Linked DNA regions of Homo sapiens. The protein of the gene in region 2 purifies or fractionates together with the protein of the main gene of each other region. This does not show direct contact. Each region holds a gene or a part of one and is shown on either strand. Other genes may lie near its edges.

Evidence for each region.
Region 1: the proteins of KDM3A (region 2) and ARPP19 fractionate together in Homo sapiens (co-fractionation; one large-scale study listed by BioGRID). This does not show direct contact.

The regions. Positions count from the first base shown.
Region 1 is NC_000015.10:52,549,288-52,552,030, reverse strand, and holds part of ARPP19 (cAMP-regulated phosphoprotein 19), read left to right. Parts: coding exon 1-97; 3' UTR 98-2,743. UniProt on the Homo sapiens protein: Protein phosphatase inhibitor that specifically inhibits protein phosphatase 2A (PP2A) during mitosis. Inhibition of PP2A is enhanced when ARPP19 is phosphorylated.
Region 2 is NC_000002.12:86,465,371-86,468,870, forward strand, and holds part of KDM3A (lysine-specific demethylase 3A), read left to right. Parts: intron 1-1,001; coding exon 1,002-1,513; intron 1,514-3,500. UniProt on the Homo sapiens protein: Histone demethylase that specifically demethylates 'Lys-9' of histone H3, thereby playing a central role in histone code.

The DNA.
Region 1 (2,743 bases), on a different chromosome or scaffold from region 2:
TCCGGATAAGACGGAGGTCACTGGTGACCACATTCCCACTCCGCAAGACCTTCCTCAACGGAAGCCGTCCCTTGTTGCTAGCAAGCTGGCTGGCTGATTAAGAGGCTGAACTGCATGAATCTGCTAAATCTCATTATTTCTCCTTAATATGTTACTTATCTACTTTTTATTTCCTTTCATTCACTAGTCATTTGAGACTGACAGCTTTGCAGGTAGCAGTAGTGTGTGCTGCTATTGTGGAATATACGTGTGTAGAGTTTTTGATTAGTTTAACAGTGCACTGGTGAAGAGGACATGTTAGAGCAACATAAGTAAACTACTTGAAAATAGTTGTATATATTACCTAACTTCTAGTGTAGTACTGGTTCTAACAAGTAACAAGCAAGTTTTAAAATTTTAATGTTTTGGCTTTCATTACTTCATCTTAATTATAGCTTTGTATGTTACTCTTATTTAATATAATCTCTATTGTATTGATTTCTTCTGTATTTACCTTTTGGATTTTGTAAAACAGAAGTTTAAGACCACAAGTTAGAAGAAAGGTCACATATTTCAAACACAACTAGATGGGGCTCTGAAAGATTTGTATCTCTGTGCTTGAACTTGAATGGCCTTAAACCTGTTTCAGCTTTAACAGTAGAATTTTACTTGGGCAATATTTGCCCATTCTGGTGTAACTTATGTGACTCTAGTGCTTAACAGCTGCCGTTGAAGCTAATATTCAGTTCTGTAGAGTTAGAATACCTTTTGTTGTTGAAGATGTGAATGAAGTATGCATGTGCATTAACTGTTGAATTCACTTTTGTGCCATTTTTGTAAATACAGTAGTTTTGCACAACCTCTCACAAATGTCTGTATTAATTTCACATACTTAAAAAGTAGATAATGTGCCAACCAGAAGCACAAGAGTTCCTACACAAAACTCTGTAAATCATTATAGCTTTTGTATAATAAGAGTAGTTTACAATCTCGGGCTTATAGAATACCAAACTGAAATCTTAGTTCAATCTGCCATAGACTTAAGCTTTTCATTTGTTACTAATATCCATGACATTCAGTGGCCTTGTGCAAATACGATATGTTGCTTAGGCATATCTTTTGTCCTATGCAGAACCTTTCATTTTGATTTTTATGAAAGTTGCAATTCATGTAATTTATATAAACTTTTTAAATGTAGAAACTTTTTACTTCCACACTCAGTTTTGGAGACCCTAGAATAAAAGGCTTCAATACTCTGCATTCCATGCCCTCTGCCACCTGCTTTTTTTTCCCCTTTGTTCTTTGACTCAAATGGTATTGAGCTGTTTGTTGTATATGGAAGCATAGGTGTCTATATCCTTACTCTTTTATATAACACAATAATGGCGTTTTCCTTCTAATTTCTCAGTTGTTAACTTCTTTCTCTTTTTTTTTTAGGATAGGGCCTTGCTCTGTCACCTGAGCTCTAGTGCAGTAGTGCAATCACAGCTCACTGCAACCTTACTCCTAGGCTCAAGTTAACTATTCTTGATCCTTTATTATTACTAATATTCTACAATTGTTTAAATAAAAGGAACTTTATAATGAAACGGTTCGGAATACTGGCTCAAGAACCTATGTCAAGATGAGCTGAATTTTGGTAAATTATTTTAGGAATTATGACAAGCTAATTGAATTAGGCTTGTGACAATTAGAGTAATTTACATGACAGGTAAAACTCCTATTAAAAATGTTTAGATGTTTGCTTCTGTAGATGTCACTTTAGTAAAATACCAATTTAGTTTTACTTGTGGCTTATCTAGTTAGAACTTAGCAGACTTTACTGGGACAAGTTTACTGCTCTTGTAGGAGCTCCTCTCACAAGTAGTTGTAATGCTGTAGCATGATACTCAGGATCAGTAGCTTGAGATGCTACTATTTTTCTCTTCATCTTTGACTTGCAGAGAGCCTCCCGTTTTTGGATCCAGGCATCTTTTCTGAATCCTGGTTCCATCAGTATACCTGCTCTCCTATGACCCCAAATCATAGTCAATGGTGCCTCAAACATAGCACCTTAAGTTAAAGGCTGCCTAGTGCTCTGAGGAAAGCTTGCTGATTATCTTCCTGATCTACTCACCCCAAAAGGCAGAAAAGCAACACAGTCACTGCTGTGGTCATTTGTAATGTAAAGATCAGTTATATATATATATTTGTAATGAGAGCAAGTATATACTCATTATAGAATCAATTTAAGAAGTTTAAAATAACCCAGAGTAGAATTTCTATATCTAGTCTTGGTTTTTTTCATGAATATTTGCAAGTAATTACCATTAAATTCACACATGAAAGATTAATCTGAAAGATCAGAGACCATGTTATTCCTGACCACGATAGAACTGCTCCTGTGGTTTGGGACAAGTAATAAAACAACTGCTTGAGTTTTGTTTGTAAAATACATAATTAATATTTGACCTACCTCAAAATGTATTGAGGATCTGTGAAATGCTAAGTGCCCAAAATAAAATATTGCTGATTGTCTTTTTATTAAAAGTAAATTTCCTCATTAAGCCAACCTGCCTTCTGTAAGTCACAGTGCTTAAATCTCAGGATTTTTCATTAGGAGAGACCTGTCGTTAAGGATTTGTAGGTATAATTGCTTAGCCTCCATTATTGGTGCTTGGGATAGAGAGGTTTTAGATTTTTGTTTTTTTTTTGTTCTGCCTCAAAGCTCAGTTTATTGAAGACATTTGTAAGCTATTGGATCATCACTTGAATCAAGATTTTG
Region 2 (3,500 bases):
GCTGCCAGTTTGTTAGTTTTTTTTTAGTTTTTGAGGTTTTTTAGAGACAGGATCTTGCTCTGTTGCCCAGGAGGGAGTGCAGTTGCAGTGGTACAGTCAAAGTTTAAGTTTACTGCAGCTTTGAACTCCTGGGCTCAATTGATCCTCTTGCCTTAGCCTCCCAAGTAGCTGGGACTACAGGCGCGTGCCACCACACCAGGCTAATTTTTAATTTTTTTGTAGAGATGGGGGACTTGCTATTTTGCCCAGTCTGGTCATGAACTCCTGGCCTCTAGCAGTCCTCTCATCTTGGCCTCCCAGAATCCTGGGATTACAGGTGTGAGCCCTTGTGCCTTGCCCATTGTTCGTTTTTAATTAGATTTTGTGTGAATATCTTTGAAGGGATTTCTAACATTTTTTATATACGTATATATTTTAGAATTTTTATCTTGACACATTGACCTTTACTAGAGGTTCAATTTTTGACTCTTGGCAAGTAGCAAGAATGGAGTTTTATCTTTAAAATTCAAACATAATCTTTACTATAGAAGAAAGAGTTTTAGCAGAGGTTTCTCTGAAATTTACACACAAAAAAAAAAAAAAAAAAAGAAGAAAGAAAACTTTCGGAATTGCCCCTACACAGACTTCTGGTTTTGATACTTATAAACCAGCTTATCTGCTGAGTATATTCTTTGGTTTCATACAATATTTTGTTTTGAGGGAAAGCTAAGGTTCATTGTGCTGTGAGAAGTAGAACTAACGTAAGAAGTTAAAGATTTCTGAGAACGTGCAGACATAATTTAGGGTTGTATTTTTCTGAGTGTTTATGATTTTTGCAGAACCATTGACTGATGACTTTTAACTCTAGCTCACAGAAATCTATCCTAAATTCTGTAACATATGAGAAATTTTCTTTTTTCTTTCATACTCGTTACCTTAGGGAACCAAACAGTTTGTTTGGGGAAGATAATGGAGAGATAAAAAGAGGCCTGGATGCTAGCTTTCTATATTATATTTTTCAGATGTCATAAACAAAGTTTACCAGAGGAAATTTCTTCCTGTCTAAATACAAAGTCTGAAGCTCTGAGAACAAAACCAGATGTCTGCAAAGCAGGGTTGCTCTCAAAGTCCTCTCAGATTGGAACTGGAGACTTGAAAATTCTGACTGAGCCAAAAGGCAGCTGTACTCAGCCTAAGACAAACACTGATCAGGAAAACAGATTGGAGTCTGTTCCACAAGCATTGACTGGCCTTCCTAAGGAGTGCTTACCTACAAAGGCTTCTTCTAAGGCAGAATTGGAAATTGCCAATCCTCCTGAACTGCAGAAGCACCTAGAACATGCACCTTCCCCATCGGATGTTTCAAATGCACCAGAAGTGAAAGCAGGTGTCAATAGTGATAGCCCTAATAACTGTTCAGGAAAAAAGGTAGAACCTTCAGCTTTAGCTTGCCGATCACAGAATTTAAAGGAATCTTCAGTAAAAGTAGATAATGAAAGCTGTTGTTCAAGAAGCAACAATAAAATCCAGAATGGTGAGTGTTTCTCAATATCTTTATTGGTAGAAGGTAAGAAATGGTAGATATATATATCTCTTTCTTGTCCTATGAGAAACTATGTGAAAATGACTTTGTAGAAATAGTTTATACAGTCAGAAAAGTTGAAAGAAGGTATAATTCCCAAATCTCAGAAACGATTACTGTTAATATTTTGGTGTACCTGGTTTCATGTATATAGAAATACAGATAAACTGTATTACACAAATGGGTTCATGCCAATAATTTTACCCTGTGAATTAGTGTAGGTGTCTATTAGTATTTTAAAGCAAGGATTCCATTATGTTCATTTACCATAGGATTTAACTGGTTCCTATTAGGTGGGTAATTAGGTGGTTCCCAATTCTTAGGTTAAGAAAATTTTGAAACAAAATCTAAAGTAATCTGGTGTTTACTTTATTTCAGCTTGTCACTGATCTTTCTGTTACATCCAGGTTGGAGTAGGAAGAGGTGATCTGTGACAGGTAGCTAAGATTTGAAATTTTAGAAAAGATGCAGAATTGTATCATTTCTGGAAAAAGGACTTGGGTTAAAGATGTTACGGATAGGGCTGAACTACCAGGAAGAGTCTCTTTGCTTAAGGGGAGGTCCTGCTGCACCCACAATTTAAAACTACTCTTCTTATGGGGAAATTGGTACGTTGTACTTGATGCTACTTATATGAAGTTTGAGGATGCATTATAATGGTGGTAGTTATCAGAAGCTCTGTTACTAGAGTTAGAAGAACAAAATGTTTTCAGCATGTCAAAAGGTTTAGAGCTATTAGAATTTAAAGATGCCTTTTGATCACTGTTAGCTATGTGGGAAATTGATATGGATTTTGTTAATGTTTTAGGCTGGGCATAGTAGCTAACACCTGTAATCCTAATACTTTGGGAGACCACTGTGGGAGGATTGCTTCAGACCAGGAGTTTGAGACCAGCCTGGGCAACATAGTGAGACCCCATCTCCACAAAAAATTTTTTTAAAAATCAGCCAGGCATGGTGGGGCACACCTGTTATTCCTAGCTACTGGAGAAGCTGAGGCAGGGGGGTTGCTTGACCCCAGGAGTTGGAGGCTGCGGTGAGTTATGATTGTACCACTGTACTCTAGCCTGGGCAACAGAGTGAGAGCTTGGCTCAAAAAACAAACAAACGAAAACAACCTACGAAAACAATTTATTTATTTGGATCAGTAAAAATGAATATATCTACACTATCTTTTTAACTGCAGGCCTCTGTGAAATTAGAGGGCAAGATGGCTGGATTTGACTTGCGAATCTTTTTAGTATAGCATTGGAAGAATAGAAAGAACTTTCTTTGCCTAGCAATACTTCTAACCTAGCTTCTTCATTGAGGCTTAAGTTAATATAGCTGTTAATTTGCATAAAATTAATTGCATAAGATTATCCTGTTCTCAGAAATTAGGTAACACTCAAAAGAAAGTACATATTCATAACCATATCCTTGTTCTATTTGTTGTTTTTGAATCATCAGCTCTCACACACAGCTAGTTTTTGAAGCAAATTTAATATTATGTGACGAAACAGTAAAGATTCTAGTGCAATAAGCACATGATAGATACACAAGTGAGTTACGGAGTCCAGCTTTGTCTCATTTAATATGTTATGTAGCTATTCCCCATCTAATGGATTTTAAAAGAAGTGAAAAACTTACATCCTGGAGTAGCACATCCTGCTATCTACTGTGACTTTTTTTTTTTGGTTGAGGTGTGAGAGTGTGATCAGAAGCCTACCGGGACTTCTGAGCTGTGTCCACTAGTACTGCATGTTAGTACAGAAGGCTTGGAAAACTTTTCTGCTCCTTTCTTCCACTTGGGGTCTAGAAAACAAAAGCAAACTGGAGTCAAACAGCTGCCTTTTTTTCCGTTCAGATAGATACGTGGCTCCTCGGAAGTGGGCGTTGCATTTTTCTCTTGACTTGGCTTTGAATTCAGAGAATCACTGATGGTAGCACCTGTTGCTCT